Linked DNA regions of Homo sapiens: region 2 is linked to region 1. Evidence: fine-mapped expression QTL. A gene starts in region 1. The other region holds a variant in brackets. All regions are shown on one strand. Distances are from middle to middle. Region 1 holds the start of HOXA4 (homeobox A4). Region 2 has its middle 71 kb from the start of HOXA1.

What was found. PIP is the estimated chance that this variant, and not a neighbour inherited with it, causes the effect. A credible set is the group of variants that fine-mapping cannot tell apart.
Region 2: its variant is the best candidate, but not a certain one, in a credible set for the expression of HOXA4 in whole blood (TOPMed, PIP 0.70).

The regions. Positions count from the first base shown.
Region 1 is chr7:27,127,412-27,132,787 of GRCh38, forward strand. HOXA4 (homeobox A4) reads right to left here and starts at 3,346. Exons shown (of 2, transcript NM_002141.5): 1 at 2,707-3,346; 2 at 1,114-2,160. The coding sequence starts at 3,322. The coding sequence ends at 1,814. The region is part of intron 2 of HOXA3 (homeobox A3); the gene reads right to left. It overlaps HOXA-AS2 (HOXA cluster antisense RNA 2), which reads left to right. Exons shown (of 4, transcript NR_122069.1): 4 at 789-1,349. RefSeq lists a silencer at 3,504-3,573.
Region 2 is chr7:27,021,859-27,027,234 of GRCh38, forward strand. It overlaps the pseudogene TPM3P4. Among named protein-coding and RNA genes, the nearest start is that of HOXA1, 71 kb to the right of the region's middle. The variant T/C (reference allele first, on the strand shown) is at 3,119.

The DNA.
Region 1 (5,376 bases):
AGCAGGGGTGAAAGGGGTACCAGCTCTGACACTGGCTAAAGGGTTTTGCCACTAATGAGAGAAATGTGTTTAAAAATTCTCTGATATTGCAGAGGCAGGTGAGCACTTACTCCCATCTATGCTAAAATTACTACATTACTTAAAAGTTGCACTTTTTCAAGGCCAGGTGACAGTTCTAATATTCTGGGGCTAGTGTGCACAGGTTTTTGTGGTCTTATTGTAGGGAACTCCCTGCAGTAAGCATCAAATCTAAATCAGTAAACAAATACTAGGGTTATAGAGATCGAGAAGTGGGTTTTGATTTTCAGCCTTTTGGATCTAGATCTCTGGAATCGAGCAGAAAATTCACAAAGCATTTGAGGAAAGTGACCCAGTTTGGCTATTTTCCAGCAGTAAACTCTCCCAGGTCTACTTTGCATGGGGTGAACTTTAGGGGTATATTATGCTTTTTCCTCAGAAGAGACATTGGAGAGTGTACTTGTAAAATTCAGTTTATTTGAAAGCTCTTTCTTCAAAAAAGAGAAACAAACAAGCAAACAAACAAAAATTCCCAGTCTGTAGTTAGTGAAGAGGACCTTAAGAACAGCCAGGAAACAAAAACTAATCTCAACCCTTTGCACAAACTATTTTTTATCTCCTGGGAAACAGGCAGATTAAGTGTGAAGGTGCAACAAATACCAAATACCAAAGAGACCACTTCTTTCCAAGTGTGCTCAGAGTTCAGTGTGTAGAACAGCTGCAGAAACTCCTGGGCCCACAGCACTGCATGGTTTCAACTTTCATTGCAGGGAAGGACACGTTTCTATGCCTTACAGAGACTTGAAGCCTGAAAGCCTGGCCAAGTTTGGGAAGAAGAGGAGCCCTCTCAGAGCTCAAGAGCCTTCCTACTCTTTGGAACTTTTCCACAGTAGGCCAAGCTTGACAAGAGTTCAGCTCAAGTTGAACATACATACACACACTCTCACACACAAATTATGTGAGCCGTCAGAATCCAAGTGAATCCAGCTCAAGCTATCTACAAGGTTTTTACATGCAAGGTCAAGTATCTCAATCCAGAGGACTTTTGTTTTCTTAATGAAAAGCTTAGAAAACACATGAATCTTAGATTTTTAATGTTTTTTAAATGGAGTTTATTCTTAGCACATGGCTTTCTATGTAGCCACATCACAATTTGTACAGTTCCACATAAGTCTAAATGCACTCCCCTCTCCCCAAAGACCGTGCCCCAGAAGGGGACAACAGTATCTCTGTAACAGTGTCTTAAATAAATGCAAGTAAGAAAAACTAACATGTCACACCTACCATCAAGGTCTACACATCTTAAGAATTAAATAATCTTGTGAGGTCCACAATGTCTACTCATTTATTCAGTTAAATACAAGCTTGGATGAGCTGCCTTAATGGGGGAAGAGGAGGTAAGGAAGGTGGGGAAAGGGTCTGTCTTCTTCTGCTTTCAACAAAGATGCAAGTGTATGTCCCCACTCAGCATGGGCTGTCCAGCTAGCTGACTGTAGCCATCTCAAAAGTATTTGATACCAAGTAGTCCTTCTCAGGTATCCACACCTGGCAGCCTTGTTTCGGGCCAGCAGGTTGTTCCACCAGCCAGCATCCTGGACAACTGTTCTCTCTTGGGTGGCAACCAGCACAGACTCTTAACCGGATAATGTCTTCTTTTTGATTATTCTTTTCACCAATTTGGGTTTGTTTTGGTGTCTATTATGGTCCAGATGGGGAGGGGTGGATGAGGAACGGAGCAGGAGAAGAGAAGAGAAAAGCAGGTAAGGGATAGAAACTGGTTAAGATCTCTAGAAGATTATATGGAGGAGGGAACGGGTGTGGAGGTGCTCGGGTGGGGGTGGGGATGGAGGTGTGGGCTCTGAGTTTGTGCTTTCCCTGGTGGGCCGGCAGAGGCCGAGGCCGAATTGGAGGATCGCATCTTGGTGTTGGGCAGTTTGTGGTCTTTCTTCCACTTCATCCTCCGGTTCTGAAACCAGATCTTGACCTGGCGCTCAGACAAACAGAGCGTGTGGGCGATCTCGATGCGGCGCCGCCGGGTCAGGTATCGATTGAAGTGGAACTCCTTCTCCAGCTCCAAGACCTGCTGCCGGGTGTAGGCGGTTCGAGAGCGCTTAGGCTCCCCTCCGTTATAACTGGGGTTAACTGAAAACCCAGAACCCCGAAATAGAAGGCCAAGGAGGAGGGAGCGGAAGAGAGGGAAAGGAGGAGGAGAGAGAAGGTGGGGTGGGGAAGAGCAATTGGACATCATCATTATATAATAACCTGACACCAAGTTCACGCAAGATACATAAAACGGCAAAGAAAATGTTTCACAGGCTATTGACAACGGGAAACACCCGAGAGCCATAAAGAATGGTGCTGGGCATTGGGGCTGAAGAAAAGCTTCAAAGACACATGGCCTGAAGCCTCTGCCAGGGCAATTAAATTTATGGGGGCTATAATTACTGCCCTAACAGTTTGGCGTCTCGTAAATCTCCTGATAAAGGGACCCTGGGTACAAAAGGGTTCTCATGTTGGGATCAGGCGGCTGGCTGGCGCGCACATACCCACATCTCACCGCAGCCCGGGTCAGATGGGGGCTCCCCTCCCGAGGCCCCCTTCCCCTGAGCCTCTCCCTCCTGACCCCGACCCTCGAACCCAGGCCCAGCCCCGGCCCACCTCCCGCGCCTCCCAAGCGGCGCCACGTACCGGCGCTGACATGGATCTTCTTCATCCAGGGGTACACCACGGGCTCCTTGCCCTTCAGGCCCAGCGGGCTCTTGTCGGCCAAGAGCAGCGGGCACGCGGGGGCGCTGCCCCCTGCCGGGACGCCTGGGGTGGCGGGGGCCGCCTCGCAGCGCCGCGGGGCCGCTGGGGGCACGGCGCGAGGCTGCAGGGGCGGCGGCAGCTGGGGCTGCAGGACGTGGCTCGCATGCAGGCCGTGCGCTGGGCCCTTGGCTTGCGCCGGGGGCTGCTCGGGCTGGGGCGGCCGCCCGGGGCTGGCGCCGCCGCGGTAGCCATAGGGGTAGGCGGTGTCCGCGGCCCCATGCGCGGGGTACAGCGCGGCAGCAGGGTAGGCGGGCTCGCGGGCGGTCCGCGGCGCGTAGTAGGAGGCAGTGGGCTCTCGGCCGCCGCCCGCGTGAGGGAGCTGGGGCTGCTGCAGCGGCAGGTGCTGGGTCGGGGGCGCTGGGGGCTGCTGGTAGCCGGGGCCCCCGCCCGGGCCGCCGTCTGCGCCGCCCGAGCCGCTGTGCTGCGCGTACTCCTCGAAGGGAGGGAACTTGGGCTCGATGTAGTTGGAGTTTATCAAAAACGAGCTCATGGTCATTAATTTGTGAAGTGCAAAAATACTAATTTTTCTCGCGTTGTCGTTTTTTCTGGGCTTGCCGAGGCCCCTCCCCCTCCTGCCTCGCTTCCCATCCCCCTTTCCTCTGCGCCCTTCCCCTCCCCCCGCTGTCAAGTGCCCACTCCTCCCCCTCCCGCAGACGCCGCCACCAAAGTTCGAGCCGCTCCTCCCCAGCCCAGCGCGCGCCCCGCCCCGTGCCCCACGTGCAGCGCCCCCACCAATGGGCGCACCGCGCGCGCGGACCCGGATCAGGAAACGCGCGGGTGCGTGATGGATGCTGCTGTCCGGCCCCTGGGCTGGGGGAGGGAGCAGGAGCTTTGGACCCCAGCCCCCCAGCTTTGGTTCCCGCTGGGAATTCAGGCCCTGTCAGGCTGTAGGTCCTCTCGGGAGCCCTCTGCCTGCCCTACTGCTGGCCTAGGCCTCGGGCTGTCTGGCGGCCGCGACTCAGCGCTGACCTCGGGCGCAACCCAGTCAGGCTTCGTGTCCTTCAGGGGTTCTAGGCTAACAGGCGAAAGGAAGGGCGTTGGGACCGAGGGGCATCCTGGTTTTTATGTACGCCACTGAGAGGCCACCAGACACATTTTCTCAACCGCAGATCCCCCTTCCCCACACCCTGCTCCTTGCGTGTCAGCCTGAGAGCCCTTGCTTTGAGAAGCTTGGCAGAAGCTGCAAAGGGTGGGCGGGCAGCTAAGAGAAATCGACCCAAGGATGTAAATCGAGGCCATTCCATTATAACTGGATGGACACTTTTCATTTTTTCCTTCTTTCAGAGACAATCTGTTTCGTGTTTTCCTAAGAAAAATTGGAACCTTCGTAATAGCATCTAATTTGACGGGGGTTGTCGATGTGAGAGCTAAATATGCCCGCATTTACTAGGTGCGATTGTGAGAGAGAAGGTGGCCCAAGGATGGGAATGGATAGAAGCAACACCTCCACAGAACCGAGCTTTGAAAACAATAACTTCCTATTTCAGAACTATCCCCAAACAAAAACAAGCTAAGGGTAGAATAAACACCTTGCCGGGTCTGATCGCTGATGGGTCTTTTCCAGCTAAGAATTTCATGTTTTCTCTTTTAGATCCTGCTTTCTCAGGCAGTATCTGAGGCTAGAGTTATATTTGCAGGACAGTCTATAATTTCTGAATTGCTGAAAATTAGCGTATTAACGATATCAGAAGCTCCGGAAAGGAGGGAGAGGAGACTGTTGCCTGCTATTTGGTAATTGAAATTTGATGGGTACACTAATTACGCCATTATTAACAAATAAATTACTTATTAATTCCACCTAATGTTGATCTTTGAAGTAAATACTGATGCCTTATTTGTGCTGTGTGCTTTCTCCCTTTCTTTTCTGAGTAGTAGACATATCTAGATCCTCTACTTTTCAGCCTAAATTAAAGCAGTGTAAACTAGCATAGTCACCATTCTAAAAATATTTTCATATTGGCATGCAAAAGCAAGGATTTTTCAGCTGGTGCACCTTAGTTGATTTTTCAAAGAGCAGTATAAACAGCCTTCTCACAACTGAGTCTGGAACGCAGACAAGGAAAATTATTTCCTAAGCCTGGAGACACTTGAAAAGGAATGTCAATTCTATCTTCATTCATACTGGTTACTCATATGAGTTACTAAATGCTGGAATATATCCATTTGATGGATAGTCACTTAATGCTTAGCCACATAAAGCCTATTATATGGGACTAATCTTTAAACTAATTTAGGAAAAGAGGTTAAAAAGGGGATCATATTAGCTTTCTAACTGGAATCACCCTGAAGAGGTACAAAGAGATTTTCCACGTTAGGTGTATATGAGTGTGAAGAGTGCTGTCCATTCACATGAGGCACCCTGAAAATTTGTTTTTAAAGAAATTTGAGCCACAGACAGAAATCAACACTGAGTGTAATCTTTAGCCATCCTCTCTAGACTGGAGGAAAAATTTAGAATGTGATACATCTACCTGAACCAATATCTCTCCCTAGCAAGAAAAAATAATATACACATAGGTTATATAAAATGTAATATAAATAATATATAGA
Region 2 (5,376 bases), 110 kb before region 1:
TTATAGTCTAGCTGAAGAGAGAGAGGAGGGCAGAAAAATAGAGTCTTATGACAAAGTGTAAAGTGCTATATAGCATGTTCAGCATTATAGCACTATTGTATTACAGCATATTATGGAACCACAAAAGAATAGAATGCAATCCAACCTTGCAAATACAATAATGGCCTCCCTGAATAAGTGAGAGGTGTTAGCGGTGGGGAGAAGGTATAGAAATTAACCAGGTAAAGAGGGGATTGATGAATGTCTCAATTAGAGGGAATCCCATAAGCAAAGTCTCAGAGGTGCCTGGTAATATGGTACATCTGAGAAAGAACAAGGAACTACTGGTGAAAGCAAGTAGATGTCTGGAATAGGATGCTGATGCCCTGGTAAGAGAAGAAATTTAAGACATTCACAAAAGTAATCCATTCCCAGCTGAAAGTGGAAAAAAAAGCCAACGTATTTATTTGATTATTTCAGTTAAAAATAAAGGTTTTTTAAATTTTATTTGGCTTCACTTTATGAATGCTTTGAAACAAAATTTTAAAGTTTGAATTATCCAAATTCAGTATAATTGCTTTAACTTGCTATTGCATTCCGCAAATGGGAAAATAGGGTGAATGATGAAAAACACTAAATACACACGGATGACATGGATACACAATGAGTGAGGTACATAAGGAAACTTTTTACCAGTGATCCTCAAACTTCAGTGAGCACAAGTGGACTACTTTAAAAGCCATTTTCTATCTTTCATCCTTGAGACTCTGACTTAAAAGATCTGTGGTGGAGTCCAGGAATCTGAATTTTTAACAAGACCACAAATGATTCTTTTAACTATTTGCAATAGAAATTTTAAACCTAAACTAAATTAGAGAGAATACTATAACATCACCCGCATACTCCTCACTCACCTTCCATAAATAAACATATGGCCAGTCTTGTTTCATCTACATTGCCACTCATTTACCCTTCATCCTAATTTCTTTTTAAAATAATCCCAAATATCTTGACATTTTATCCACTAACACTTCAGTTTGTATCTCTAAAAAGAATGAATATTTTTAGCATTATCACAATACAATAATCACACCTAAAGACCCAAGGTGATCCTAATGTAACTGGTCCAGTCTCAGAAAAACTGGACTTGAGAAAGAGGGTAACAAGTCAGTGTCTAAGTGGACTACTTGGGAAGACATAACTTAATTTAGTTCATCATAGATTCAAACTCTTTGTTCAAGAACAAGCAAGCTATTCAGTTATGTTTCTGAAACTGTTACCTTAAATATTCAAAAAATGTATTTATGGAAAGCATAAAATTAACATACTGAATTGAATTAAAAAAAACTTTTTCAGGGTTATTGATCAAAATTTTTAAGGAAAAAGAAGTTGTTTTGTTAAATACATTTTTACACCTTATCAAACCTCAAAGAGGAAAGAACAAATTGCTCAATTTGCTTTTCCTCCAGAGTTACTTGGATTTCACAGAGTTTAAAAATATTTTTCTCAATGAACCTCAGAAAAGTTTCTCAGAGTAATGAAGAACACAAAATGTGCCCTGATAACTTCCTCACAATTTAATTAACTCCAAATGCTAAAGAATCTTGCTATTTATAATCATATCTATAGAATACAATTTGAATATCAAGGTTAGAGAAATCTGATTCCTTCAGTCATACTTCAGCTCCTTTCTTTTACCTGCTTTATCATCCCCAATCAGAACCAATATTTATAAAGTTCAAGTCAGTATTTCCTTGACATTTTTATCTCCTTTCATCTGTTGCTTTAAAAACAAAAGGGAACAAAACTTAATACAGAAAAATAAAAGAAAGGAGAAGCAGCTGCAATGCTGAGCAGAAGAGGCAGGAACCAGAACTGGAGCAGTAGCTGGGTCGGCACCATGGCTGGGATCGCCACCATGGAGGAAGTGAAGTGCAAGATCCAGGTTCTGCAGCAGCAGGCAGATGATGCAGAGGAGAGAGCTGAGCGCCTCCAGTGAGAAGTTGAGGAAGAAAAGTGGGCCGGGAACAAGGAGGCTGAGGTGGCCTCCTTGAATCGTAGGATCCAGCAGGTTTGAAGAGGAGCTGGACCATGCTCAGGAGCGCCTGACCACTGCCCTGCAAAAGCTGGAAGAAGAGGAGAAAGCTGCTGATGAGAGTGAAAGAGATATGAAGGTTATTGAAAACCAGGCCTTGCCGAGGCCCGGGAATGGCGTGACCCCCGGGAGGCGGAGCTTGCAGTGAGCCGAGATCGTGCCACTGCACTCCAGCCTGGGCAACAAAGTGAGACTCCGTCTCAAAACAAACAAATAAAACCAGGCCTTAAAAGATGAAGAAAAGGGCCCAGCGCAGTGGTTCAAACCTGTAATCCCAGCACTTTGGGAGGCCAAGCCAGGCGAATCACGAGGTCAAGAGTTTGAGACTATCCTGGCCAACACGGTGAATCCCTGTCTCTACTAAAAATACAAAAAATTAGCTGGGCGTGATGGCACACGCCTGTAGTTCCAGCTACTCGGGAGGCTGAGGCAGGAGAATCGCTTGAACCCAGGAGGCGGAGGTTGCAGTGAGCTGAGATCGCGCCACCGCACTCCAGCCTGGCGAGACAGTGAGACTCTGTCTTAAACAAACAAACAAAAAGATGGAACTCCAGGAAATCCAACTCAAAGAAGCTAAGCATATTGCAGAAGAGGCAGATAGGAAATATGAAGAGGTGCCTCGTAAGTTGGTGATCATTGAAGGAGACTTGGAATGCACAGAGGAACGAGCTGAGCTGGCAGAGTCCCGCTGCCAAGAGACAGATGAGCAGATCAGACTGATGGACCAGAACCTGAAGTGTCTAAGTGATGCTGAAGAAAAATACTCTCAAAAAGAAGACATATATGAGGAAGAGATCAAGATTCTCACTGACAAACTCAAGGAGGCAGAGACCCGTGCTGAGTTTACTGAGAGATTGGTAGCCAAGCTGGAAAAGACAACTGATGACTTGGAATATAAACTGAAATGCAACAAAGAGGAGAACCTCTGTACACAAAGGATGCTGTACCAGACTCTGCTTGACCTGAATGAGATGTAGAACACCCCAGTCCTACCCTGCTGCTGCTCCTCCCTTTGTCCCTGACTCCACCTGAGGCCGGCCTGCC[T/C]GAAGCTGATCTTTAACTGAGGGCTGATCTTTAATTTGGGGGCTGCTTTCTACTTTCGCAGCCCCCTCCTTCCCTGTTTCTTTTTTGCCAAACTGTCTCTGCCTCTTCCTGGAGATTCCAGCTGGGCTAAAGGCTGAGCACCTTTGGAAACAACATTTAAGGGAATGTGAGCACAATGCATAGTGTCTTTAAAAGCATGTTATGATGTGCAAGTGTCTTTAAAAGCATGTTACGATGCGCACATTTTGTAATTACCTTTTTTGTTGTTTTGTAGCAACCATTTGCAAAACATTCCAAATAATTCCACAGCTCTGAAGCAGCAATCTAATCCCTTTCTCACTTTCGGAAGGTGACTTTTCAGCTAAATGCATATTGCCCTCTCCATAGAGGAGAGGAAAAAGTATAGGCCTGCCTTACTGAGAGCCAAACAGAGCCCAGGAAAAGACTCCACTATGAGAAACCTCGTTGCTCTGTACAAAATACCAGCCAAACCAGAAAGGTGATTCCAGGAGGAGTTAGCCAAACAACAACAAAAAAAAAACAAAAAAGATATTTTAAAGCTGAAAACCTGGCTGGGTGCCGTGGCTCACGCCTGTATTCCCACCAGTTTGGGAGGCCAAGGCAGGTGGATCACGAGGTCAGGAGTTTGAGACCAGCCGGACCAACGTGGTAAAACCTCGTCTCTACTAAAAATACAAAAATTAGCCAGGCGTGGTGGCGTGTGCCTGTAATCCCAGCTACTCAGGAGGCTGAGGCAGGAGAATCACTTGAACCCAGGAGGCGGAAGTTTCAGTGAGCCTAGATCATGTACTGTACTCCAGCCTGGGCGACAGAGTGAGACTCTGTCTCAAAAAAAACAAAGAAAGATATCTTTGGACAACGTTATTTCAAATTTTTTTCATTAGAAGTGACCAAATTAAGATGGTAAGACCTCTGAGACCAAATTTTTGTCCTCCCAACTGCTTACAGAATGGATCACGTGCCCCTTAGGTTGAGGTGACTACTTAATTGCTTTCCTACCTTCTTGAAAGAAAGAAAGATTATGTTTTCGCCACTGATTTAGCCATGTGAAACTCATCTCATTAGCCTTTTCTGGGTTTGAAGTTGCTATCTCTAAAAGTGCCATCTCATTGTGCTTTGTATCAGTCAGTGCTGGAGAAACCTTGAATACCTTATATACAAAATTTTTTTAAATTTTGTATTATTTTGAAACTTTGCTTCCTTGGGTTTGTGGCACCCTGGCCACCCCCATCTGGCTGTGACAGCCTCTGCAGTCCGTGGGCTGGCAGTTTGCTGATCTTTTAAAGTTTCTTTCCCTACCCAGTCCCCATTTTCTGGTAAGGTTTCTATGAGGTCTGTTAGGTGTACATCCTGCAGCTTATTGGCTTGAAATGTACTCTCCTTTGATGTGGTCTCTTTGGGGCCGATTGGGAGAAAGAGAAATCAATAGTGCAACTGTTTTGATACTGAATATTGATAACTGTCTTTCTGATATAAAAAACCAGTCCCTCCAAAACAACACCTGAGTTTATAGCTGAATATCAGAAGCAATATTAAGTTTTCTTTCTTAACCACGCAGATCAGAAAATCTTTTGCAACATTAACATTTTAAAATATCAGGCTGAGCACAGAGGCTCTTGCCTGTAATCCCAGCACTTTGGGAGGCCAAGATGAGAGCATCACTTAAGCCCAGGAGCTCAAGACCAGCCTGGGCAACATAGGGAGACCCCATTTCTACAAAAAATAAAAAATTAGCTAGGTGTGGTGGCATGCAACTATGGTCCTAGCTACTTAGCACGCTGAGATGGGAGGATCGCTTGAGACAAGGAAATTGAGGCTACAGTGAGCCATAATGATGCCACTGCACTCCAGCCTTGGCAACAGAGTGTGACTCTACTCATCTCAAAAAACAAAACAAAACAAAAAAAACTTACATTTCACTGTCAATCCCTAAAATCACATTTGTGTAACACTGGTGTAAATTATATATTTGCGTTTTTCAGCTATATTCCATTTTTTAAAGTACAGTGATGATCTGTGATAGCTTACAAGCTATTTCTTATTTATCAACAGTATGAAACCATGAATCCATATCAAAACTATGACATAAAATCCTACATATGTGATTATTAACCTTAGAATGCCTAAGATGAAACTGTTCCTTGATACTGTCATTAAAAGAAGCATTTAATAAAGTACTAAACATCACATGTTTAAGGTATTTAATTTCTTTTTTAAACTCTTTACCCTTTGCTGAG